Homo sapiens: one gene and its partners. The protein of the gene in region 3 interacts with the protein of the main gene of each other region in a biochemical or structural test. Each region holds a gene or a part of one and is shown on either strand. Other genes may lie near its edges.

Region 1 (7,029 bases), on a different chromosome or scaffold from region 3:
GGAGATCAAGACCATCCTAGCTAACACGGTGAAACCCTGTCTCTACTAAAAATACAAAAAAAATTAGCCGGGCGTGGTGGTGGGCGTCTGTAGTCCCAGCTACTTGGAAGGCTGAGGCAGGAGAATGGCGTGAAGCCGGGAGGCGGAGCTTGCAGTGAGCCGAGATTGCGCCACTGCACTCTAGCCTGGGAGACAGAGCGAGACTCCGTCTCAAAAAAAAAAAGTAATAATTTTGTAAAGCACCTTACAGTTTACAAAGAGATTTAACAACCTCTTCCAATTCTCTCAACTTCCCTGTGTGGTCTATGTTGTCCCTGTTTAGTAAATGAGGAAATGGAGGTTCAAGAGACAGTAACTTGCCTAAGCAACAGAGCTTGAGCTGCTGTAGGTCTTCTGATACTCTGTCTCCTTTGATAATCTTGTTTGCCTAGTTAGATTGTAAATTTCTTGAAGCCTGAATCTAACCAGTTATTTCTTTTTATTCTTTATAGCACCTAGCTCCATGCTGCGCAGGAAATATAAATATTCAAACTAGATTGACTGGACTGGCCGTGGTCAAAAATAACTTGCCCTTTCTCCCTTCTGCCCTCTAGCGCCCTCACAAAGCCAATGCTGAGGAGATGACCAAGTACCACAGCGATGACTACATTAAATTCTTGCGCTCCATCCGTCCAGATAACATGTCGGAGTACAGCAAGCAGATGCAGAGATGTAAGTCCATTCTGTTCCCTCACACTCTGAAGCCGCCAGTTGCATCTCCCTTTCCACTGTAGAGGCCCATTCTGCCGTCCTCGCACCTCCCATTCAGTGGACACCTGATTTCCCCTACCTCCTAAAGGTGCCAGAGTGCTTTTTCCCCTCAAGTCGGATTTTTCATGTTTCCTGATTTGTAAACGATAGAGGTAGTACTTTTTCTGGTTATGTTCACAACACTGTCCCAAGAGTACTGTAATTATTGTAGTGGAAAAAGCACTGACCTGGGACGGGGAGACAATAGATACAGTAAAATTTAACTCTAACTCTCAGCTGAGTGGGCAAGTCACTTCCCCTCAGATTCTTCTTTTGTAAAGTGGGCTGGGCCACATGATCTCTGATTTCTGTCCAACTGTAACTGTTTTGACTTAGTGGGTATTAATTGAGAATTTAGAGGCCACTCAGGACAGATTCTAGATGGTGTAATCTTTGAGATGAGGTGATGCTGCCCCTGATCCCTTGGACTTGAACTTCAGAGCAGGTCCCATCTTGGAAGCCACGCTTAGTTTGTAGGAATCGTGGGAATTATTTTAGCTGTGAGGGGGAAAAAAAAAGTATTCAAATTTGGGACAAAACTATCATACCTGACTTCCCCCTTGTGTTATTTTAGAAATTATCTCTTAGCACCTAAGACTTCATATAGTATAACAGCACTGTCCAGAAGAAGTTTTGATTAACTTATGACAGCTTATATGGAAGTGTCAGAAAATATGCGGCACTTGTTTGTTGCTGCTGACCACAAGGTAGTCTTACTCCCAAGGAAGAAAGTTATTTATAACTATTATTACAACTAATAATAACTGTACAGTGGTATTGATGGCAGAACCACAGAGACCTTCCTTGAAGCATTAAGCTTCTTTGCTACCGACAACTCCAGGAGCTGCCAGCTGCTGTGAGTGAGGTGTTTGCTCTCTGAATTGCAGGGTCTTATTTCCCTCCAAGATGAGGCAAATTCATGCCTTTCCTGTAGATGGCTTTAGAGGTTTCCATAACCCATTTAGGCCAAGGATCAGGCTCTACTCTCAGCACAGTGGGCTCTCACTAGAGGAGCAACTTGCTATTAAAGTAAGAAAATAAGCTTTCATGTCTTAGTTTGAATCCTTGGTTTCCTAGCCCCTCTGGTGTTATTTCCCGCCCCTGCCACTTTTTTTTGAGACAGAGTTTCGCTCTTGTTGCCCAGGCTGGAGTGCAATGGGGCGATCTCTACTCACCACAACCTCCGTCTCCCGGCTTCAAGCGATTATCCTGCCTCAGCCTCCTGAGTAGCTGGGATTACAGGGATGTGCCACCACGCCCGGCTAATTTTGTATTTTTAGGTTTCTCCATGTTAGTCAGGCTGGTCTCAAACTCCCGACCTCAGGTGATATGCCAGCCTCGGCTTCCCCAAGTGCTGGGATTATAGGCCTGAGCCACTGTGCCCGACCTGTTTTCCCTCTTTAAGAGGAAGACAGGACAGGCACAGCGGTTCATGCCTGTAATCCTAGCACTTTGGGAGCCCAAGGTGGGAGGATTGCTTGAGCCCAGCCAGGAGTTTGAGACCAGCCTGGGCAACATAGTGAGACCCTCATCTCTACAAAAAAATAAAAAAATTAGCTGGGCATGGCGGTGCACACCTGTGGTCCCAGCTACTCAGGAGGTTGAGGAGGGAGGATCTTTTGAGCCTGGAAGGTCGAGGCTGCAGTGAGCCATGATTGTACTACTGCACTCCAGCCTGGGCAACAGAGCGAGACCAAAAAAAAAAAGACATTAGTGCCTATTTCATAGTCAAGGATGGGGGAATAAGTGAAGATAATATATTTAAATATATATAATATGTCTACCCTCAATGAATTGCTTTTGCTATTTTTGCTATTGCATAATCACTTTTGCTATTATGACTTACTATTTTTATTATTTACAAACTTATCAAGGCAGACAAAATGCTATGCCCTGAGGAGTGTGCAGGTTCTGCTCTGGTGCGCCAATTTTTCCGAATCCAGCATTCTAAAGTTGTACATTAAAAAATTCAGTCTGGCTGGGTGTGGTGGCTTACGCCTGTAATCCCAGCAGTTTGGGAGGCTGAGGCAAGCAGATCACCTGGGGTCGGGAGTTTGAGACCAGCCTGGCCAACATAGTGAAACCCCATCTCTACTAAAAATACAAAAATTAGCTTGGTTTGGTGGTACATGCCTGTAATTCCAGCTACTCAGGAGGCTGAGGCAGGAGAATTGCTTGAACCCAGGAGGCAGAGGTTGCAGTGAGCCAAGATCGCGCCACTGCACTCCAGCCTGGGCGACAGAGCGAGACTCCGTCTCAAAAAAAAAAAATTCAGTCTGGGTGCCTATAGTCTCAGCTACTTAGGAGGCTGAAGCAGGAAGATTTCTTGAGCCCAGGAGTTCAAGGCCAGTCTGGGTAATATAGTGAGACCTGGTCTCTAAAAAAAATTTTTCTAATTAAAATAATTAGGTCTTGGATTTTTCTGTCATCAGAAATGGGGGCAGGAAGAATAAGCCTCTCTAAGAACTTCAGAGTACCTCACTGAGTTGATTTGTAGGGTTATGGAGGGTCAGAGTAGACAGAGACTTTAGATGTCACTTAACACAGTGCTTTATAACCTGGGGTATCTACCAAGACAGTAATGAGCCCTTTTTAAAAAAAGAATTATTTTTATTTTTATTCTTGTTTTTAGAGATGGGGTCTTGCTTTGTCATCCAGGGTACAGTACAGTGGCAAGATCATAGCTCACTGCAGCCTCAAATTCCTTAATCCTTAACTTGCCCTTTTAGAATATGTACCAATATCTAACCTAGGCGCTGGACATGGTAGCATGCACCTGTAATGCCAGTGCTTTGAAGGGCAAGGCAGGAGGGATAGCTTGAGGCCAGGAGTTCAAGACCAGCCTGGGCAGCATAGTGAGACCCCCATCTCTTATTTTATCTTAAAAAAATAAAAATAAAAAATTAGTTGTGTATGGTGGCACATGCCTGTGATTCTGGCTACTCAGGAGCCTGAGGCAGGAGGATCCCTTGAGCCCAGTTCAGGGCTGCATTGAGGTATGGTCTCATTTCGCCACCACACTCCAGCCTGGGCAACATAGCAAGAACTCGTCTCAATAAAAAAAAAACACACATGGCCAGGCGTGGTGGCTCATGCCTGTAATCCCAGCACTTTGGGAGGCCGAGGTGGGCGGATCACGAGGTCAGTACATCGAGACACCATCCTGGCTAACACGGTGAAACCCCGTCTCCACTAAAAATTTACAAAAAATTAGCCGGACGTGGTGGCAGGCGCTTGTGGTCCCAGCTACTCGGGAGGCTGAGGCACCAGAATGGTGTGAACCCGACAGGCGGAGCTTGCAGTGAGCCGAGATCACGCCACTGTACTCCAGCTTGGGCGACAGAGCGAGACTCCTTCTCAAAAAGAAAAAAAAAAAAACCCACACACACACAAAAACATCCCACACACCTAATCTAGGAAGTTATGCTTATGATAAGATCGAGTAAATCAGGTTTCCTTGCTTGTGGCTGAAATGTAATAAACCCTTTCTGGTCACTTTGAGAGCCTTGACCAGAAGTTCTGACCTAATATTTAGCAAGTGAAAATGGGAACACAAATAAATGCATTTAGGGGGCTTTTGGTGAAAACATGATAAAAGGGATTGGTAAAAAATTGGGAGACATTCTCATCCATTTTACAGACATGTAAACTTTCCCAGTCACACAGCAAGGTGATGGTAGAATGCAGAATGGAACTCTAGTCCCCCAATTCTGTAGTTTTAAAAAATATAGTGTATATAAAATATTTTAGATACACAGGCCAGGCAGGGTAGCTCATGCCTGTAATCCCAGCACTTTGGGAGGCTGAGGCAGGTGGATCACTTGAGGCCAGGAGTTTGAGACCAGCCTGGCCAGCGTGGTGAAACCCTGTCTCCACCAAAAGTACAAAAATTAGCCATGTGTGGTGGTATATGCCTGTAATCCCAGCTACTCGGGAGGCTGAGGCATGAGAATTGTTTGAACCTGGAGGGCAGAGGTTGCAGTGAGCCAAGATCGCGCCACTGCACTCCAGCCTGGGCGACAGAGCAAGACTCCATCTCAAAAAAAAAAAAAAAAAAAAAAAACAGAAAAAGAAAAAAACATATTTTAGACACACACAAAAAGCATCAAAAAATAATATAATGCACTTTGGGAGGCCGAGGCGGGCAGATCACGAGGTCAGGAGATCAAGACCATCCTGGCTAACACAGTGAAACCCCATCTCTACTAAAAATACAAAAAATTAGCCGGGTGTGGTGGTGGGTGCCTGTAGTCCCAGCTACTTGGGAGGCTGAGGCAGGAGAATGGTGTGAACCCAGGAGGCGGAGCTTGCAGTGAGCTGACATTGCGCCACTGCACTCCAGGCTGGGCAACAGAGCAAGACTCTGTCTCAAAAAAAAAAAAATAATAATAATAATATAATGAACATCCATGTGTGCCCAATACCCAGCCTGAGAAAGAAAACATTATCAATACAGTTGATGCCCCCTTGGGCATCTTTCCTTGATCACATACCCTTTCTCTCCCACTCCCCCAGCCCCCCACCCCATTACCAGCACTGCCAAGGTATAAGCACTATCCTGAGGTTAGTGTTTAATCTTCCCATCTCTTTGCAATGAGCATTTGACTGCCTTCTCTGCCTACGTCTGCTTCCACCTCTCACCCAGTATTGCTTCCCTTTAGTCTAAAGCTAGTGTGAGAATGAGAAAAGCGTTTATAGCAGAAAGAGAGAAAACCCATGGAAAAGTCTTCCCTACCCTCACAGATTAGCTCACATGAGTATCTGCTCTTCCATTTGCCCCCTTTCCATCTCTAATCACATAGCTTATTGACTAGGAATAAAAGGGCTGGTCATTTGAGCTACATGTTGGTTTGGTGCCTGAAGAAAAATATTTTTTTTTTTCTCACGTCCAAAACACCCATTCCTTCCCATGGAGGCTCCATATCCCAAATAAGAGTATAAACAAAGCTTTGGAAACGCAGGCAGGCCAAACTCTGTGCAGGAGGAAGTGGCCAGAGAGGGAAATCAGTTGCCAATGGATAAACAGCCGGGGCCCAGGGACCAAAGTTCTTATTTACACAGCCTCCCAGTGTTTACCCAGGAAGTGAGGAAGAGACCCACCCGCTGCACACTCCCTCATGCAGCCATGCTTCTTCCTCAGAGCACCGGATCTTGGCACCCTCCAAGTTTAGTGCAGAACCAGAGCTGGTAACTCTTGTGGTTATTGTAGATCTTGAGCTTCAACTGTGTCTTGAGATTTTACCAGCACAATCCAAACTGAGCTCTTCTGCTCTCACCCCAGGGCTGCTCCTTCCTCTACTTTTGGAAATCTTGATAACAGTGGGTACAGTAGAAGGCTGGGCAAGAGAATAAGTATGCAGCCCCACACCTCCTGCCTCTGACTTCCTGTAGCTCATTGATGTCTCAGCAGTTACTTTTTTTTTTTTTTTCTCCTGAGATGGAGTCTCGCCCTGTCACCCAGGCTGGAATGCAGGGGTGCAATCTTGGCTCACTGCAACCTCCACGTTTTGGGTTCAAGTGATTCTCCTGCCTCAGCCTCCTGAGTAGCTGGGATTACAGGCACATGCCTGGCTAATTTTTGTATTTTTAGTAGAGACGGGGTTTCTCCATGTTGGCCAGGCTAGTCTTGAACTCGTGACCTCAAGTGATCCACCTGCCTTGGCCTCCCAAAGTGCTGGGATTACAGGTGTGAGCCACCGCGCCCGGCCAGTAGTTACCTTTTCTGTAAGAGGAGATTTGGAGCTATAAAGTTCCTCTAGGTCTGTGAGTCTACAGCCTCCAGGTGTGCTTTCCTTCCTGTTTTCATTTCATTTGCCTTATTGTTTGCATATGTTTCCACATTATGTACTACTTGGTACTTTTACCCCATTAGGCCCGAAATAACTTTACTCCACTTGTCACTGTGAATGTAGCAGTAAGACACTGGGCTACGGGAGTCAAGACACCGGGACCCTGATTCTGGTTCTGCTACTGCCTGGTTTTATAACCTTGGGCAAATCACTTAACTTCTCGGTATCTGTTTGTTCCTCCGCACAGTGGGGTTGATATCTGGCTTGTCCAGCTCATAGAGTTGTTGTGAGGATCAAATGAGGTTGTATATGTGAAAGGACTTGGAAAAGGGCCGGGATATATTTTCACAGGCTTTTAAGACAGACAGGCTGGCTGGGCACGGTGGCTTATGCCTGTAATCCCAGCACTTTGGGAGGCCGAGGCGGGCGGATCACAGGGTCAGGAGTTTGA
Region 2 (7,029 bases), on a different chromosome or scaffold from region 3:
TTTAAACAAACAAGAACTAGACCTGTAGTATAAGTGCCAAAGTAACACAACTAAAACTGAATAATAATAATTATGGCATGTCCCAGGGTGAAAAACCATGCAGCCATTAAAAATCTCATTGTATAAAAAAAGTCATATTGCAGAATTTTATTAGTGGCAAAATGTTGATAATGAATTGTTACATGTTTTTAAAAGAGCTACAAAATAATGTGTACAGAATAATAACCACTTTTACTTAAATATACTTATACATCCAAATATAATAAAATACGTAATTTTTAAAAGACAGACTAAAAAGACACAAAAAAAGTTATATTAACAGTGAAGTTTTCTCTGTTCTCCAAGTAGTGGAATTTTTTAGTGATTTTTCTTCTTCTCTGGATTCTTAAAACATTTTATTAGTTTCTGCATTAAGCATGCATCTATACATCTTAGCAATTTTATAATTAAGAAAAACATAGTGTGTGTTATAACACAAATAAAAACGATGTGCATGTTTTTAAATTTGTATACTGCTAATTGGCTGCTAAAGTTGTTTGAACACTGCAGCATGAACCAAACAGATTTATTCTTTATACTGTTTTAAATGAGTGACACTTAACTGTATAGAGGCTAAAGATGATGAGCCAACAGGACATTACTTTAGGTTAGTCATGCTTTTTAAAATTCAGTGCTTACAAGTTGTGTGCATGTGTTTCCAATAAAGACTTATTTGCCAAAATGTTCCTTGAACATTTTGTGCTACATTTTCACACTCCTGTTTATTCATTACAACTTATTGGACCTGCAGTGCTTCTCAAGTCTTGAAGGGCTTTTCCTCCCCAATGCAGTCTTCTCCAGGGTTTTGGGAAGCTTAGAAGGTCACCCCTGCCAGTTCAGAATATTCACTCAGGGGGATCTCAGAAATGATTCTAGATCACTGCATACCCCCTCTAAGTGCTTTGTTCACACCGACCTTGTAGCAGTGGTCATGTTTTCTTTTAGTTGTTTGTGAATCAGTCTCCCCCAGAAATCAGGACACTTATCTTGGCAATAATCATCCTAATAATTACTGTTTGTCAAGTGCTTACCATATGCCAGAAACTGTACAAGCACTTGGCATACATTACTTCATTTAGCCCCCTTAATAGTAGGAAAAGTAATCGCTACTTTCTCCACTTTATAAAAGGAAAAACTAAGGCTTTGGTTTTGAACAAGCTAAAATATAAAGACAGAACTCCGAACTCTAAAGGAAGAACCAAAACCATAAACCAGTAACCAAATATACTGTTCTCGATGAGAGGATTCAGTGGTCCGGCCAATGATAAGTGTATCCTCACAGCCCCTTCCAGCTCTGAAATCCATGGTGGTACCCAGTCATTTTTCTAACCCTTGTATTAACAAAACAGCTCCATCCTCCCTTGTATACACCATTCTTATAATATTTGGGTCAGGGGAGTAGGTCACTCTTAATTTCCACACATTTCAGAGGATTATGACATCATGGCCAATGTCTTAGTTCCTACCTTCAGACACTGTCCCTGAGTATTAAATCTTGTGTATATTTGTATTGGTCCTAAAATTAGAAAAAGATCTGATATTGGTTTATATCCTGAATGATCCGCTCCTCCATACTGGTTAATAATAACAGTAATAAGCGCTGCCATTTACTGAATATTAACTATGGTGCTAAGTGCTTTACAATGATCCTATGATAAAGTGGGCTTTGTTACTGTCCCATTTTACAGACAGGGAAACTAAGCCTTAGAGAGGTTAAATGGCTTGCCTTATTTTACGTATTCATTTGTTCATTGATTTGATAAAGGAATACATTGGAGATTTGAATCGAGGTTTTCCAGACCCTAGTTTAAATCAAGACTCTGTTAATATTCTAAAACAGTTGATTAAGACTGGGCATGGTGGCTCACACCTGTAATCCCAGCACTTTGGGAGGCTGAGGCAGGAGAATAGCTTGAGCCCAAGAGTTTGAGACCAGCCTGGGCAACATAGTGAGATCGCATCTCTGCAAAAACTAAAAACATTAGCCTAGCATGGTGGCATGCACCTGTGGTCCCAGCTACTTGGGAGGCTGAGGCAGGAGGATCTCTTGAGCCAAGGAAGTCAAGTCTGCAGGGAGCCGTGATCACAGCACTGCACTCCAGCCTGGGCAACAGAGCAAGATCCTGTTTAAAAAAAAACAAACAGTTAATCAGCACTCTCTTGCTAGTATGACTTTGGGCTAATTAGTAGCCTACATCTGTGTATCAGTTTCTTGACCTGTAAAATGGTGTAATGATATTATTTACCTAAATGTTGTGGTGTGGATTAAATTATTTACTAAGTGGACAATGCTTAGAATAGTGCTTGATATATAGTGAGTGTTTAGTACTAGGTGCTATAAAATAATAATCACCATTAATAACAATATTATTATTCACTGGATTTTAATTGTTGAAATGGCACATTAAACAATAGAGAAGCAAAAAGTGTCCCCTCACGACCTCCTCCTTCCTCTCCCCAGCATGAGCCACTGAAACCAGTTTGGCAGATATCCTTCCAGAATGTTTCCTATTCCATCAAAAACTATTTTAAAATTGTCCTTTCATTAATAAAATACAGGTTGAGAGTGAAATTTTTTGCAGTGTTCTTGAAAGTGTGGGAGTGGAAAGGCAGGAAGGGAGACAATTCACTCATTCAGCCAATACCTGTCAAATGCCTGCCGCATGCCAAGCAGCCACAAAATGCTAAGGATTCGGCGTCCAGCATAGCAAATGCTCAACTTCCGTTTTGAGTGTTTACTGATTTTCTTTTTTTAATTTTATTAGGATATGATGTTTCAGCTTCTCCGAGGTCTGGACTTTCTTCATTCACACCGAGTAGTGCATCGCGATCTAAAACCACAGAACATTCTGGTGACCAGCAGCGGACAAATAAAACTCGCTGACTTCGGCCTTGCCCGCATCTATAGTTTCCAGATGGCTCTAACCTCAGTGGTGAGTGAGAGAGTGCTGTCCTTTTATTAAACTTATTTTTCCTATTTTGAATGACAGTCTGTCCCTCTTCCATGTCTCTAATGTTAGTACTGCCCATGACTAGTTGGTGGATAGAATGTCTTTGCCCATTTTTATATGGCAGTGGGTAGGCAGAAAGCATTCTGCTTACAGCTACAGTCACATCCAGCCTGGGCTTGTTGTGGACAGGATCCATTGCAGAAATAGCCTGTTGCATCTTAGCCACTGGACAGGAATCAGTTACAAGTTTCCAAATGCTTTCTGCCATAACCACTGTTTTCAGAGCTGTATGTACAATGCCTAGGGAACACACAGCTCAAGGTCAGGGAAGAAAGAGCACGAGCAACGTTGACCTGTCTGCAGCATCATGGTTTTGAGAAACAGAGTGCCTACACAGGTTTGTTAATGCACTCATCTGAAGCTATGGTGCCAGCTGTAAAGAAGAAATCAAATTCACAGTGAACTTGGATGATGCATGAACGTAGAGCACCGCCATGCCAGGTGAAGGCTCATATAACCCTGAATAGAAAGAGCGAACCCAACGGCCCTGTTTTGGCAAAAAATAACAGTTATGATACCCTGTTTCTTTTTGCCATTCAGCTGCAAAACCATAATAGCTATTGACATTGGTTAGCTTCTATTTCTCCATATAGTTCATTATTTCTCAGATGGATTTTTGTGAAATTCTGCACCCCAAATACAAAAAGAGCAGCCTGGAAATAGGTATTAATACCCTTCTCTTTGAAAGACCTGTTTTGCATACAGTAAATTCATGCCTTACGTACAGTAAATTAAATAAATAATATATAGCAAATTAAGTCTTAAGAAAAAGAATTTTAAAAAAGAAAATATCTTTGTATATTCAAAGAAATAAAAAAAAATAATCCGTATTGTCCATCTTTAGCCTCAAAGTGGTTCTCACATCAGGGACAGCATGGCCCTGTTGTTAAGTAATGATTGGCAACATCTTTGGTCATTCTGCACAGCAAAAAATTGTTTCCCTAAATTTCAGTAATACTACAGCTGATAAGTAGAAATTCAAGAGAGGAGTTAGAAATTCTCTGAGACAGATAACTTGCCTTAGGAAAAAATCCAATTTATAAAAGTGTTCCCCACCCCCTGCCCCCAGTCAAAATAGGGGTGCTACCACCTAGACACGTAAGACCAGTTACTTTCCAAACATTATAGACTTTTCCTAGGGCATCAGAACTTTTGATGCAGAGGATTCCTTGGAAAATGTTGCCATTGTTAGAAGATAAATCCTACTCATTTCCTCTTTGCCCAGCATACACCATTGCTTTAGAGGAGAAATGGCACGAGTTGATGTTTAAAAGATAGGCCTCAGCTTTGAGCACGGTCAAGCAAGCCCTTGTATTCTTATGTAATCACACCAGAAAGGGCTGAGTCTGTGTATTTCCCCAGTGGGAAGGGTGAGGTAGGCTTTGAGTTTCCCTAGGAAGTTGTTGCGCATGTTGTTTTGGGGCCCTGGGGAGAAGCTTGAATAGGCTTTGTGATCCAGAGAGTCATCAGGGGAGTAGATGGAAGGAACTTGTCTCCTTGGGTACGTTAATTGAAGGAAGGATAAGCTGTAACTGAGATGGACGCTTTTATTTTAATCCCCCCAAATGGGCACTAATAACCATAAATAAAAACAGGAAACCCAGTTGGTTTGTGTTTGATTTTTTTTTTTTTTTTTTGCTTATTAAATTTGAGCTTGTGCGTAACATCAATTAACATTCCATTCTTGCTGAAAGTTGATATGTTCAAACAGGAAAATGTAGACAAATTATTTCATAGAGGAAAAGGAGAAAGGCAGTCATAAATACACAATTTTTCAGTATCTAGTTTATACTGCATGCTTTATATTTCCTATAGTGACATAAGTAAAACATGTTAGCAGCTGAGAAGGATTCTAAAACAAAAATCAGACTTTATTGGAAAGAGTGACGGTTGGAATTTAATGGTAATAATAAAGGGTATGTTCCTACAGGGTACTGCATTTTAAAATTTCCCCACTCTTTTGTATTTTTCTATTTAAAGGAAATACCCATTTAATATAGTAATGCGTCGATTTATATACACATGGTGACATAAAAACTTGGAATCATAGTTTTTTAGACTGAACTGGTATGTATTTTTAGTGTCTCTTGAAGAGAAAAAGACTACACTCCTCTTCCTGGAAATACACATTTTTTAGTGGGTTATGTCATACAGGAACTGAGAATCAACTTAATTTGTGGAATGTTAAAGGAATTACAAGTTAACTGATTCAAAACTGACATCTTAAAACTATGAGAAATGCTAGTATTTTACTTACCTTGCAAAGCCTGACTCCAGAGGTACCCTTTCTAGTATCCCCTTCAGAAATTAATTTCTTTTTCCTCTCTGTTTCCAGAGTAATATTTTGGGTTTTTTTGTTTGTTTTTGTTTTTGAGACAGAGTTTCACTCTGTTGCCCAGGCTGGAGGGCAGTGGCCCTATCTCAGCTCACTGCAACCTCTGCCCTCCGAGTTCAAGCGATTCTCGTGTCTCAGCCTCCCAAGTAGCTGGGATTACAGGCCACCCCAGGCTAATTTTTGTATTTTTAGTAGAGGCAGGGTTTTGCCATGTTGGCCAGGCTGGTTTTGAACTCCTGACCTCAAGTAATCCGTCCTCCTCAGCCTCCCAAAGTGCTGGGATTACAGGCATAAGCCACTGTGCCCAGCCTATAATACTGTTTTCTGTCTTGTTTTTAGTTATTTGGGAATTTTATTTATCAGGCCATAAGTTCCTCGAAGGCAGATGCTCATCTTATTCAGCCCTAACACACAGTGCCTTGTTTATTTTGATAGGCACTCAGGAAATATTTTTCAGTGAATAAATTGACAAATGCTGACTTGCAGATATAAGCAGTTGAGTCATAACAGGAATAGAGAAGGAGCTATGTTATACATTTAATGGTCTCATTTGATGTGTGTCAATATTCCTCATAGCTACCTGGTAATATTAAGCTGAAGGACTTACTCCATATACCTTAAAATGGCTGAGTCCATTTTGCACCCTAGTCCTGATTGATTTATTGGCAGCACATATCTGTGTTCAAAATCATGAAAGCTATTAATACATGCTGTAGCTCAATCTCAAGTTAGGAGTGAAAAGTTGACGCAAACCCAAGTTCACAGTCTGTGTATTGTTTTTATCATAATCCTTTCTACTGCCTCAGGAACAAATTACATATATGAATTGAACTTCCTGTCCTGAACAGAAAGCTGTAGAGATAGAGGAATGTAGCATTATTGTAATTTTACTTATTTGAAGACTTTCTTTAGCCCCTTGTGTTTTGTTATTAAAGCAAGTTTTAGAAGAGGAGTCATATTCTTCTAAGATAATTAACATCCTCTAAATGAAAGAATGGGTGAATTACTAGACAACTTTTACTATCTATGTTAATATATATATATTTACATAATAAATGATATTTCTATTTGAACAATTATAAAAGCTTGTATTATTAGCTTCTTTCTGAAAACTTCAAAATGTTCTTACATATAGAACTTTGAGGGAGCAGTTAACAGTATTTATTTTCATTTTAAGTTCATGATCACCTGACAGATCCTGAAGTACTACTTCTCCTTAATTTCTGAGCCAGTATGCTCTATGCCAGTATTCAAGACAAGGCATCTTTTGGATTAATTGAGAAATTAGTTGTTCTAGACAGGTAAGCTTTCCAGGCATCTTAAGGTATAACCCTTTATATTATGATCTTTATTATTTTATTTTTCTAGTGAAAACAAGTTTCTTGTTAAGAAACACGAGTTTCATAAGTAGAATATACTTCATATGTTGGCCTTTGGTAGAAATTAATTTAGGACAGTAGCCTGGACCATAGTTGTAGCTGTAGGTGGTATGCAACATCGGGCTGAATGACTTATCTTGTCCTCATCTGATAAATTGAGGACTAATCAAAGAGTTAAATGTCTTTTGCCTAACTTTGCCAGGCTGCCTCCAACATGACATTCTGGTGTCTTTATGGGGTATTGGGTTCTTGCTGCTCAATATAG
Region 3 (7,029 bases):
TGAATGAAGAGTAGCAGTTGGTAATCCATGGAAAGAAAAGGAGGAAATTTCAAGAAGAGGGAATATCAAGTACGAGGGTTTTCAAAAAACTTGGAAAGCCCAAGAAACAGAGAAGGCCAAAGTGTGGCTAACACAGAGTGAGAAAGAAAACAAGATGAGGTTGGAGAGGCAACAGAAACCAGACCATATAAGATCTTTTAGGCATTGTTAAGGAATTTGCACTGTATACCAATTGCAATGGGAAGCAGTCAGTGGGTTTAACAGCAAGGTGAATGTAACTGATTTACATTTCTAGGAGAAATTCTGGGGGCTCTATGGAGAATATCTTTGATGGTGAGGAGACAGGAACAATGATGAGACCAGAAGGAGCAAGATCAGGTAGTAGGCTACTGCAAAAAATCCAAGAGAAAGAGAACAATGTCTTGGACAAGAGTTGTGAGAGCAGAAATGGAGAAAAGTAGATGCACTCAGGAAATATTTTGGAGGTAGATTATTCAACAAGCCTTGATAACAGATTTTGATGTGGGAAATGAGTGAGGAAAAAGACATAAAAAATAGTTCTAATCCTTTAAGGTTGCATGCAGATCAAATAGTGATACTTTAATTTTTTCTTTTTTATTTACTGAAATGGAACACATTCCTATTTTAGGTTATGTTCTTTAAGAACAGACAAAACTAGGTCCAATAACCATATCTTCAGCAACCAGTAAAATGCCCAGCACACAAAGATTATATATACACATTTTTTTTTTGAGACGGAGTTTCGCTCTTGTCACCCAGGCTGAAGTGCAATGGCACGATCTCAGCTCTCTGCAACCTCCGCCTCCCGGGTTCAAGCAATTCTCCTGCCTCAGCCTCCCGAGCAGCTGGGATTACAGGCACACACCACCACCCCCAGCTAATTTTTGTATTTCTAGTAGAGACGGGGTTTCACCATGTTGGCCAGGCCGGTCTCAAACTCCTAACCTCAGGTGATCTGCCCGCCTTGGCCTCCCAAAGTGCTGGGATTACAGGTGTGATCCACCACACCTGGCCTTCAATATATATTTCTTACATGTATGTATGAATACATAAAGAAACGTGAACAAATCTGAAACACTATAAAGCCATGAATAACAAAATTATAATATAATTAAAAGTAGGAAAATTCATACCTAACTGGAGTGTGTGGAGGAATTACATTCACCTCTTCATCAAGGTTACTTTTTCGTGGTGTTCTCTGTGTTTCAAAACTAAATAACAATAAGTGAAGTCATTCACATACTGAAAATTTACAATTTGTGCTTTATGCATCAAAAAAGCAGTATAATGCTTCTGTTGTCTCATAAAATCATATAAAATGATAACTCAATAATAGATAGGATAGAAAATAGATGACCCAGCTGCTGCTTAAATAAAATATTTTTCACTACTCTTTTTAATTGTGGGTCTCTTTCCATTATGTTTATGACAAAGAGGTATACCAATCATTAAGTCTTTTTTTAAAAGTGAAAGTCAGATGCTTTCTCCCTGGTGGTATTGATAACCAAGTTGTTCAGTATTAAAAAGCATTAAAACTCAAGTTTTTCAATGCATTATTCCTTCTAAAAACTTTATTTCCACTTAAATAAAATTTAAAACATTTTACTGTGTTTAACTTCTAAATTACGCATATTTTCAGTTTCATATTAAAAGAGTTCATGCTAAAGACACAAAATTAACTTTACTTATGATCAGTCAAAAATTTTAACAATCACTCTCAACCATTCCAATTTTAGGTTTCTACATGATAATAACAGAGACTACACTTTTGTATAAACTTTTTTAAATAAACCAGGCAGGCAATAGTATATGAAAGGATAGAAATAAGGTAGAGACCACTATTTGAAGAAACTAATTACTTTAGCCATTATCTTTTGGTGCACATTTTAAAAAATTATATTCAGTTAACTGCAAAAAGGTAACTGTTATAGGACACACAATTCACATTAAATCTATATTTGTAGATAAGTTATATGCTTAAAATACTGTTAAACTTTTCTTTGTATAAAGACATTTGAAAGTAATTTGTTATAAATGATATCTAAAGGTCACTAAGCTAAAGACTATATAATCTACCTATATCAGTATCAACCTATATCTAAAGCAAATCAATCAAATATACCATGTGCAATACCTGTCTATAGAATCAGTCTGAAGAGTTTTATCATGATCCAAAAATAATCTTGCATCTAGATCTTTATTTTTAAGATAAATTTCTTCGTATCGTTTAGAAAGATTTTCAACCTTGAAAGAAAAAAGTCACTGACAATTATCCTTTACATGTCATTACATCTCTCAGCACACAGAGGCACAGATTTCATTAAAGAATTTTTGTATAATATACATTTAATTTTGTAATATACACTGAGTTCGCATGCAATATAAATAAGGTCTATCTAAAAGTGAGGTACAGAAAATTGCAACATTTGTTCAACTTTGATTTTAGGTCTATTTCGTGCATAGAAAATATTTATTAGAATTTTATGTAGACAAAGATAGCCAATGCTACAAAACAGTACCTAAGATAAAAATAGGTATTATAATAACTGTTTAACTGCCAAGATTTTCCAAACATCCCATATATGCTTTACTTTTAATCTTTTTTTTTTTTTTTTTTTTGAGATGGAGTTTCGCTCTTTCGCCCAGGCTGGAGTGCAGTGGCACAATCTCGGCTCACTGCCACCTCTGCCCCCGGGGTTCAAGCAACTTTCCTGCCTCAGCCTCCCGAGTAGCTGGGATTATAGGTACCTGCTACCATGCCCGGCTAATTTTTGTATTTTTAGTAGAGACGGGGTTTCGCCATGTTGGCCAAGCTGGTCTTGAACTCCTGACCTCAGGTGATCCACCTGCCTCGGCCTCCCAAAGTACTAGAATTACAGGCGTGAGCCACCGCGCCCAGCCTGCTTTTAATCTTTTATGCTTATCAATATAAAATATTTTTTCAAACATTGTTGCAAATCCTCTTGATTACATATTCTACCAATGTTTTCTAAACCCTTTGGTTCACTCCAGTACCCTTCAGTTAAGTATCTTGGGCAAGACAATTAGCTCAATTTATCAGTTCAATTAACACACTTGCACAATTTATTCCCAATCTTAGATACTTTTTCAATTGCTAGAATTTGTAAATCTTTCATCAGTTCTGATCCATAATTTTTTAATTATACTTTAAAAACCAATGCCCAAGAGAAAACTATTGGCATGCCTTCTACTGTGACTTTTAACGCCAAAGTGATTCCAACCTCAGAGAAGTAAAATTGCATTTTAAAAGGAGTGATAGGAAGAAATCCAATTAAATGCAAACTTTTCATTAATCTTCATAAATGTATTAGATAGAACAGTAATCCATGCTTATGTTTAATCATTGTTCCTGTCCTACCTTAGTTGAGGCACTAATTACCAGTCATCTATTGATTGGCTATATTATGTGAAATATTGGAGAAAAAGTAAAATTACTCTTAAGATTTATATTAAAACTATAATCCTTTTAAAGGAGAAAAAAAGATTGCTACAACAGATTTTAAAGTTATGAACAGCCTAGTTTTTGGTACCAAAAGTGGTAACAAGACTCATTAATATAACATTTGGTCCCTTCTTGCCTCTTCAGTACCATATTTTAATTGTTCTGCCCTGTATCCCAACCTTAATGAATTACTTAGAGTTCACTGATCAGACCATACTATCATACATCACTGCACCTTTGAATCTACAATGTCCAACCCTTGGAAATGCTATATCTGTAATGCTTACTCAGATTTGAAATCACATCACCTCTAAACTATTTTCCACAAAACCTATCAGCCCTAGTTTGGATTAGGTAGCTCTCCTTTGAGATATCACAGAACCCTGTGAATACTTTTTTCACACTCTTGTAGACTCCTGTAATGCTCTATTTCTTTGTCAGCCTCTCCCACTAGCACTTTAAGGATAGTGACTGAGAGTGAAATCTCTGTATCCATAGTATCTAGCACGTGCCTGACATATATTAAGCATTCAAAAAATATTTGTTGAATTAATAAATTAATTCAAAAACTAGCTATCAATTCAGGTTACAGAACTAGCAGTCTAGCTATTTTATTTCATGCCTTTTGGTCATAGTGACTAATACTATGTCTTCTAAAACACTGGTTTTGTTCTTCATCATCTATCACAGCATCCTTTTCTCCACATATTTCGTCTTACCATGCAAAGCTCTCAGTTATTCTGTTCTCATTGGAAAGACATTTGTAGCAAAATGCGAAACAAAACAGGTAGATGGATGGAATATCACTAAGGTAAAACACTTCTGCAATAGTCACAGTCATTTCAACAAATACATTTGTATTTTCAATTAAGCAGTTCTTAAAAATCCTCAAAAGAGATGTTCCACAATGTAGTAATGCCAATAATGTTGATGGCATTAATCATGGTTCCTACGCTTAATGAGGCTTACCAAAGCAAATTTAATGGTTTATATTTAGCTATTAAAATTTAGCTATTTAATGGTATTTAGAAGTTTAAAAGTCTATACTTTGATTTTGGAAAAAATTCAATAAAGATTGATTTCTAGTATAAATCACAAAATGATGCTAATACATTTGATTATATACTCAAAAGCTTTTTGTTACTATACAAAAGTTAGTTTCACCACAATTCTACTTGGCTAGATTCTTCTTGGGCAAAAAAAAAATGTGATACACAGTAAATTGATCTAAGAAAGTTAGACAATTATCCTCCCTCCACAGTCTCAAAACATTAATATTTTATTAAATTTCCTTTCAGATTACCTCTGGAAGTCCATTAGATGTTACAAGTCCAAGAGAATTCATAAAAGGTATAAAATTTTTGAAATAAACATTTTTCACCTGAAAAAGATGAAGTTACAACATGATCATTAAAATTTAAAACAAAATCTAATCTCTTGACTCTTGAACAATGCAGGGTAAGTTAGAGGTGTCAATCCCCCATGCAGTAAAAAATCTGTGTATAACTTTTTTATTTTTTATTATTTTCTTAGAGAAGGGGTCTCTCTATATTGCCTAGGCTGAAGTGTAGTGGCTATTCACAGGTGCAATCACATGCATTACAGCTTCAAATGCTTGGGCTCAAGCCATCCTTCCACCTCAGCCTCCCAAGTAGCTGAGACTACAGACCTATCGATTACTTTTGAGTACCCAAAATTTAACTAACAGCCTACTGTTGACTGGAAGCCAACCAATAACATAAAGATTGAATTCACATATATTTTGTATATGTACTATATATACATACTAAATATATCATCTTCTTATGATAAAGATAGAGAAAAGAAAATATTAGGAAAATTGTAAGAAGACAAAATACATTTACAGTAAGTTTATGTCATCTGTTAACAAAAATCGTCCGCCTGAAACAGCAGGCATCTGCAGCTACAGTTTTGTATGTATTTTATGGTATAGTAAATGATAAAATAGACTAGTATCTACATATATTTTGTACATTCAAGACATGCCTTTTTCTTAATTTTTTCTGTATTTGTAGGCTACACGGTTTGCTACAAATTTTTTCAAATTATTGCAAATCTCCAAAATTTTTTCTAATATATGTAATTAAATATATCTGTGTATAAACGGACCCATGCAATTCAAACCTGTTGTTCAAGAGTCAACTGTATATTTGTTGAAATTAGTAAGCCATAGTGCAAAAACTATGATATATCTTGATAAATCATTCTAATACTTCTTAAACTAGATTTTAGGACCACACTCTCACTCCTTCCCAAAGTTAACAGAGAAATTTCAAAGATGTAACATTTTTTACTGCTATCTGGTGTTAGTGATTGTGGACAATAAAACAAACTATGAGAAAAACTGTATGGTAAAAAGGAAAGAAGCAATAGTACCAGATATCCCAAAGTCTAATGTAGACGCTGTAAATAATAAGCTATCAGTCCCTGGAAGCTTGTTTACTCATTATAAAAAGGAGATTGAATACATTATTTGTAAGATTCCTTCTAACATCCACATTCTATGAACAAGACAAGTAATTCCTGGGAATTCATATGTATTCTCCAGCAGTCATTATGTGCTGTAATATTTAGAAAGAGAGTAATTATAGAAGGCCAAACAGAAATTTAATGTTGGTATCACTTATCACTAAACTAAAACACTAGAGCACTAGAGTTTTCTAAGCAGGGCTTTTTTGGTTTGTTTGTTCGTTTTTGGAGACATAGTCTCACTCTGGCGCCCGGGCTGGAGTGCAGTGGTGCAATCATGTCTCACTGTAACCTCAAACTTCTGGGCTCAAGCAATCCTTTTGCCTCAGTCTTCCAAGTAGCTGGGACTACAGGCACATGCCACCATGCCCAGTTCATTTTTTTAAATATGTATTTTGTAGAGACAGAGTCTCGCTATGTTGTTCAGGCTGGTCTAGACCTCCTGGCCTCAAGAAATCCTCCCACTTCGGCCTCCCAAAGAGCTGGGATTACAGGTGTGAGCCACCATGCCCAGCCTTGGCAGGGTATTTTAAAACATTAGGGGTATCAGTAACCTCAGAGGAATAAAAAAAAAAAAAAACTACATTTGAAAACTATTGTCTTGATTATATACTTTTCAGTGATTCCAGAGTGAGGGAGCTACTCTCTTTAAAATCAAAGTAACTAAATATAACGAATTAATTTTTTCTAAATATTTTGCTACTGCAAAAGAGTTAGCACTAATTACAAAAAAAACATGCTCATAACAAAAGAAGTAAATATTGTTAGGGAGAACTTACATCTAAATCTACTTTAACTGTTTTAAAGAAATCATGAAGTTAAATTACCTCATCTATATTACATTCATGTTCTTTACAGAGAACTTCAATAATTCTTGTATCATTTTCTAGTTGTTTTGCTATCCGTGCACTCCTGTTCTGACCTCGCCTGGGTGTTCGAGGTGAACCATTAATGGGTATAACAGCTGTTTCTGTAAAAGTGGTAAATTAGATAAGAACAATTGTACATCCATCATATAAAATAATGAAGTATTCTAACTATAACTTAGGTCAAAA
Region 4 (6,830 bases), on a different chromosome or scaffold from region 3:
CTTTTTGGAAAACTTCACTGAAGAGTATAAATAAGATCTGAACAAGTAGAAAGATATATATCACTCTCATGGATGAGAAGATGGTATTACAAAGGTGTCAATCCTACCCCAGATTAATTTATAAATTCCATGCAATTCCAATAAAAATGCTTCTAAAATTCATATGGAAGAATAAATGTGCAAGAACAGCTAAAGCAAATTTTAAAAGAACAAATGCATAAGAATTCCCTTATAAGATAATAAGAAATATTATAATATCACATTCAAGATGCTCCTAAATTCATATGAAAGAATAAATGCACAAGAAGAGTTAGCGCAGTTTTTTAAAGAACAAAGACAAAATATTCCTGATCAAACAGCAAGATATAAAACTGTAAAAATGTCACAAGAATTCAAAGTCTAAAAATAGACTCATGTATTTAAGAACTTTTAGTCTATGATAAATCTGACACCAAGCAGCAGTCAGCCAGAAATCATGTGTCCATGGTGAGAAGAACTAGAGCAGGGGCTCCCGACTCCCCTGGCCAGAGACCAAGTACCAGTCCGTGGCCTGTTAGGAACCGGGCTGCAGAGGAGGTGAGCAGTGGATGAGCAAGAGAAGCTTCATGTGTATGTACTGCTGCTCCCCGTTGCTCACATTACTGTCTGAGTTCTGCCTCCTGTCAGATCAGTGGCGACATTAGATTCTCATAGGAGAATGAACCCTATTGTGAACTACACATACGAGGGATCTAGGTTGCATGCTCCTTATGAGAATCTAATGCTTGATGACCTGAGGTAGAGCTGAGGTGGTGACGCTAGTGCTGGGGAGTGGCTGCAAATACAGATTAACAATAGCAGAGAGGTTTGACTGCACAGAGACCATAATAAATCAATTGCTTGCAGACTCATATCAAAACCCTATCGGTAAGTAGCAAGTGACACTTAAGTTGCATCTGGTGGCAGGCTACATAGTGGCAAGTGAGTTGATGTACTTCAGTTGTACAGCTGCAGCTGATGGCAGGCTTTAAGTCTGAATCCGACTATTTTAGTTTGTTCCTGACCCGCCCATTATTTTATTTACCACTCCCATCCATGTCTCTTTCCTGCACCATGCACTTTCTCGGTCACAGTTTTGGTAAGCCCATAAGCTAACCCTAGCCAAAATGAGTAAAAAACAAACTTCACTGGAGAGGTTCTTTGAAAAGGGGGAAAGATCCAGTGATGAGACTGCAGAAGACTTTAAGACTGCCAACAAAAATAAAGCTGCATTTAAAAGAAAATATCAAGAGTCCTACTTAAAATACCAGTTCATTACAACAGGTGATTCACATTATCCAAGCTTGCTTTGCATAACATGTAGCAAGTGGCTATCTAACAAAGCCATGAAGCCTTCTAAACTGCTTTGTCACATGGAGACCACACACCCTGCATTAATACTAAGCCTTTGGAGTTTTTCAAAAGAAAACAATGTGAACACAAAGAATAGAAGAAATTATTGAAGGCCACCACTTCATCAGATGTGTTTGCACTGAGAGCATCATTCTTAGTGGCTAACCACATTGCTAAAGCTAAGAAGTCCTTTACTATTGATGAAGAGTTGATCCTGCCTGCTTCTAAGGACATTTGTCATGAACTTTCAGGAGAGGCTGCAGTTCAAAAGGTGGCATGTGTTCCTCTTTTGGCTAGCACCACAACTAGATGAACTGATGAAATATCAGAGGATAATGAGGCACAATTGTTAGAAAGGAACAATGCTTTTTTGTGTGTGATATATTTTGCAGGAGGATGTGAATGAGGATATGCTATATGCACTTTTGTTGCCAACCAGCACCACAGATGCAGAACTATTCAAGTCTTTGAATGATTACATATCAGGAAAGTGGAATCAGTCATTTTGCATCGGTATATGCATGGGTGGAGCAGCTGCCATGACTGGATGGCATTTTGGTTTCACTACTCAGGTCAAAGAGGTCGCTTCTGAATGTGAGTCTATGCACCATGTCATCCATAGAGAAATGATGGCTAGTCAGAAAATGTCACCTGAACTTAACAACATTTTGCAGTATGTGATTAAAATTATCAACCATATTATACATGCCCTTAACTCACATCTGTTTGTGCAGCTCTGTGAGGAGATGGATGCAGAGCACACACGTCTTCTCTTACACACAGAAGTGAGATGGCTTTCTAAAGGTAGATCACTGGCCAGAGTTTTTGAGTTAAGAGAGCTGCTTCAGAGATTTCTTTGTAGAAAAACAGTCACCATTGGCGGCACATTTCAGTGACACAGAATGGGTCACAAAAAAACTTGCTTACTTGTGTGACATATTCAACCTGCTCAGTGAACTCTGTCACTTCAGGGACGAACAACAACTGTGTTCAACTTGGCAGATAAGGTGGCTGCATTCAAAGCCAAACTGGAATCATGCGGGTGACAAATGAACACTGGGATTTCTGACATTTCAAACATTAGCAGAGATTTTGAAAGAGACTGAGCCAGGGTCTTCTTTCTCCCAGCTGGTGCATGATCACCTATCTCAGCTTTCAAAATATTTTGAGCATTACTTCCTGTATTAGTCATGGTTCTCTAGAAGCACAGAACTAATGGAATATATACATATATATATACACACACACACACACGTATATACACATACACACATACATATACACATATATATGTATATATATGTAAAGGGGAGTTCACTAAGTATTAACTCACATGATCACAAGGTCCTACAATAGGCTGTCTGCAGGCTAAGGAGAGAGGAGAGCCAGTCCGAGTTCTGAAACTGAAGAACTTGGGAATCCAATGTTCGAGGGCAGGAAGCATCCAACACAGGAGAAAGATTTAGGCTGGGAGGCTAGGCCAGTCTCTCTTTTCACATTTTTCTGCCTGCTTATATTCTAGCCAAGCTGGCAGCTGATTAGATTGTGCCCAACCAGATTAAGGGTGGGTCTGCCTTTCGCAGCCCACTGACTCAAATGTTAATCTCCTTTGGCAACACCCTCACAGACACACCAATGATCAATACTTGTATCCTTCAATCCAATCAAGTTGACACTCAGTATTAACCATCACACTTCTCATCCACAAAAGACGGAATGGATCTGTGACCCATTTGTGAATAAGCCAGGTGAATCCACTTTGTCCACGCTAGAAGAGGATCAACTGCTTGATATTGCAAATGACGGTGGCCTTAAAAGTATGTTTGAGACAACTTCAAATCTCCATACGTTCTCGATTAAAGTCAAGGCGGAACATCCTGAGATTGCCACAAAAGTACTGAAAAGCCTCCTTCCATTTTCAACATCCTATCTTTGTGAGGCAGGATTTTCCACAGTAACAGCAACCAAAATGAGATTACAGAATAGACCGGACATAAGGAACACACCTCGGGTGTCACTGTGTCTCATCACCCCCAGATGGGACCATCTAGTTGCAGGAAAACAAGCTCAGGGCTCCCATTGATTCTACATTATGGTGAGTTGTATAATTCTACATAACTATAATGTAATAATAATAGAAATAAAGTGCAGAATAAATGAAATGTGCTTGAATCCTGTAAGTATACACAGTCATATAATTCATATAAGTATATACAACTTAAAACCTGAGGCTTTTAAGTTGAAGGTAAAAACAGGTAAAACATGTTTTTAAAAAACACACAAAATAGTATTTTGCTGTCAATACATAAAGATACATGTAAATGCAAATAAAAAGAATTCAAAGAATACACACCGCATTGCTAATAGTGGAAAGATACCTCCCAGGCGAAAAGAAATGGGACCAAGTATTTCTTCACTATAACTAAAAAAAAAAAAAGTACAATATATCTGTTGTTTGTGAATTTAACTTTTTAAATGAAAACACTAAAAGGACAAAATGGATTAGTTCTTAATATGCTGATCTGTGGTTATGGATGTTGTCTGGTTTGGAGACGTGGATTTACAAGTCATCAGTACATCGGTAAATTGCCCAGGGGAAGAGGAAGGGGGGGAAGGAGCATTAAATGTTACGAAGGCCATGTAAGGTTATTTTCCGGTTTGCAGCATTACAAGCAGCAGTAGGGTTAAGTAACACAGAAACTGTTACGCTCTTGCATGCAGGGTCCCTAGATACGAAGTTCGAATCGATGGAAACGTAGCTCAAAAGGCGACGCCAACACCCCGGAGAAAACACTGAGCTACTCCAACCACAGTGGCGCGCCAAGTAGGAGGCGGTACCTGAGGACCACGCCTGCGCGCGGGGTTACGCAAGCGCGCAGCCTTTGCGCACGCGCACGAACGCACGGCCGCGCAGCATCTGTCTTGCTGGAAGCTTTTTCCTAGAGGTTGAGCGGTTTGCACAATGTCGGAAATGGCTGAGTTGTCCGAGCTGTATGAAGAGAGCAGTGACCTGCAGATGGATGTGATGCCTGGCGAGGGTGACCTTCCGCAGATGGAGGTAGGCAGCGGGAGCCGGGAGCTATCCCTGCGTCCCTCCCGCAGCGGGGCCCAACAGCTCGAGGAGGAAGGCCCAATGGAGGAGGAGGAGGCCCAGCCAATGGCGGCGCCAGAGGGGAAACGGAGCCTTGCTAACGGGCCCAACGCTGGGGAGCAGCCAGGCCAGGTGGCGGGCGCAGACTTCGAGAGCGAGGACGAGGGCGAGGAATTTGATGACTGGGAGGACGACTACGACTATCCCGAAGAGGAGCAGCTCAGTGGTGCCGGCTACAGAGTATCAGCCGCTCTTGAAGAAGCCGACAAGATGTTTCTGAGAACAAGAGAACCAGCCCTGGATGGCGGGTTTCAGATGCATTATGAGAAGACCCCGTTTGATCAGTTAGCTTTTATCGAAGAGCTTTTTTCACTGATGGTTGTCAATCGTCTGACCGAAGAACTCGGCTGTGATGAGATTATTGATAGAGAGTAGTTAGATGCTGTTAAAAGAGGAGGAAACTACTTGAGGAGGGACCCAACTTTCCGCTATCTTTTGGGTTCATTCCAAATAGTTTTGTGCCATTGAAAAACTTGACCTTCAAAAAAATTTGTTTTTCAGAATAGAACACAATAGGACAGTGACTGCACAGTTGTGAAAAAGGAAGAGAATCATTAAAGAAAAAGAAAAAAGATTTTAAGACCGTTGAAATCAATTATCAAGAACGTCCTAAAACACCTATGGCTTTGACTTTGTTATTGATCCAGATTATTTTCCTTGCATTGGGGAAAATATCTTTCATATTTGTTTGCTGTAAAGATGGTTTTGCAAGAATAAGTCATGACCAAGACAAACTGCCAATACAAAAGCCCACTGATACTAATTATATAATGAGAAAAAAATGTATCCAACTAGGACACATATCTTTTGAGTTATTTGGACTGAAAGCTTAAGAAAACTTGGAAAATTCTATTTTGTGATCTAGTCAAGCCACAGTTATCAAAGGCTACATTTTCAGTGTAAGATAAATGGATGAGTAAACTCAAATATGTATCACGTGTGCTTTGTATCTTAAGATGTGTTTCCAAGAGCATCTGAAATTTTGTTTGTACATGTATCTTGATCATTTATAAAGCCACTGTGATCTATAAATCAAGAAAATCCATTGTCATAACCATTTTTAAAAGTCAAAAATTAAGACATCCTTAATTAAAAAGTTTCAAATCTAGACACTAAATGTGTGTGAATGTACAAAGAAAACAAACCATTGCTTATGCTGTTATATACTAGAGAAATTTTGTTTTGCTTGCTGTTTTAACTTGACAGATGAAGGACTTTAGTTGAACTTCATATTGTAAGAACTGTTAATAAAAGTTGTCAAGTAAAAAGCGCTATATCTAAAAAGACTTTATGAACAGTTATTCTATCAACTTTTAAAGGTTTTAAACCTGCCCAGAAATTACCTTGGTATCTGAAGTTTCCCTCTGTCTCCTCCTCTAATTAAGCTTGTTATTTGTCATGCACCAGCATTGGAGATAATAAAATTTCTTGTTCTGTGTATTTTGTTTGGCTAATAGTATTGCATACATACTTTCTCTGTATACTACTTTCTATTGTATGTGTTAACCAGTATTAAGGGAAAATGATCCAGCTTCAGCTATCTAATTCACAAATTAATTTCTGGAAATTAAACTTTGTAAATTAAGTTTTTGCCTATAAGAATTTGCTGGTCTGGGAAAACCTGCCCTATCAATGAGTATGTTGCCGTGGTTACCTTACTAAGATGCTGAAGTTCTAGGAGAGTAATGATTACATCAGAAGGCTAGGTTCAGCAAAATAAGTGTATCAGCAGGTTTTATCATGATCAGTAAAAATGTTCCAAATGCTTCTGCTCCATTATAGCAGTAAAGAACGAATATCCAATGCAACAGGACAATTCAGAGCCTTATTTATTTTATGGTCATCCTGTCTTTTGGGGAGAGAGATCTGTAAAAGATAGGACTGTGACAAGGCTGATCAGAATTGCTCAGACACTAGCTGGGTTAGGAGGGAGAGATGGTGGAAGTAAAATGTTGGTGCTTAGACTTAATCCTACTGCCTCTTCCACTGCTTTCTCAATTAGCGTGCAGCTACGGTCAGATGAGTGTGGATAGGTAATTAATTGCATGGATGATGTAAATTAGTGTGGGTGGGGGTATGCTAGTGCACAATAAACTGGCTGGTTGTATTTACCTCCAGATCTTTATCTTTACCAGGAAAGTTTATCTTTACTAGGAAAGATAAACTCTTGGAAAAAAAAATCTGAGGTCCACAAACTAGAAGGTTGTGATTCTGTTTTTCTCTGGGACTGAGTAGGGCAAAGAGGTGGGGGTGGGAAACACTATTCCATCTGAAGGCCCATCTTGGGGAGAAAAACCTGGGCTCTGCA

Evidence for each region.
Region 1: the proteins of RB1 (region 3) and HDAC1 form a complex in vitro, tested with the Homo sapiens proteins (9 studies listed by BioGRID and IntAct).
Region 2: of the proteins of RB1 (region 3) and CDK6, one has a biochemical effect on the other in vitro, tested with the Homo sapiens proteins (9 studies listed by BioGRID and IntAct).
Region 4: the proteins of RB1 (region 3) and EID1 form a complex in vitro, tested with the Homo sapiens proteins (5 studies listed by BioGRID).

Annotation. Positions count from the first base shown.
Region 1 is NC_000001.11:32,316,072-32,323,100, forward strand, and holds part of HDAC1 (histone deacetylase 1), read left to right. Parts: intron 1-593; coding exon 594-711; intron 712-7,029. UniProt on the Homo sapiens protein: Histone deacetylase that catalyzes the deacetylation of lysine residues on the N-terminal part of the core histones (H2A, H2B, H3 and H4).
Region 2 is NC_000007.14:92,721,569-92,728,597, reverse strand, and holds part of CDK6 (cyclin-dependent kinase 6), read left to right. Parts: intron 1-2,804; coding exon 2,805-2,972; intron 2,973-7,029. UniProt on the Homo sapiens protein: Serine/threonine-protein kinase involved in the control of the cell cycle and differentiation; promotes G1/S transition. Phosphorylates pRB/RB1 and NPM1.
Region 3 is NC_000013.11:48,362,730-48,369,758, reverse strand, and holds part of RB1 (retinoblastoma-associated protein), read right to left. Parts: intron 6,945-7,029; coding exon 6,802-6,944; intron 6,572-6,801; exon of another isoform or gene 4,866-6,571; coding exon 4,788-4,865; exon of another isoform or gene 4,783-4,787; intron 2,266-4,782; coding exon 2,156-2,265; intron 1,233-2,155; coding exon 1,155-1,232; intron 1-1,154. UniProt on the Homo sapiens protein: Tumor suppressor that is a key regulator of the G1/S transition of the cell cycle. The hypophosphorylated form binds transcription regulators of the E2F family, preventing transcription of E2F-responsive genes.
Region 4 is NC_000015.10:48,873,844-48,880,673, forward strand, and holds EID1 (EP300-interacting inhibitor of differentiation 1), read left to right. Parts: upstream 1-4,290; 5' UTR 4,291-4,333; coding exon 4,334-4,897; 3' UTR 4,898-6,330; downstream 6,331-6,830. UniProt on the Homo sapiens protein: Interacts with RB1 and EP300 and acts as a repressor of MYOD1 transactivation. Inhibits EP300 and CBP histone acetyltransferase activity.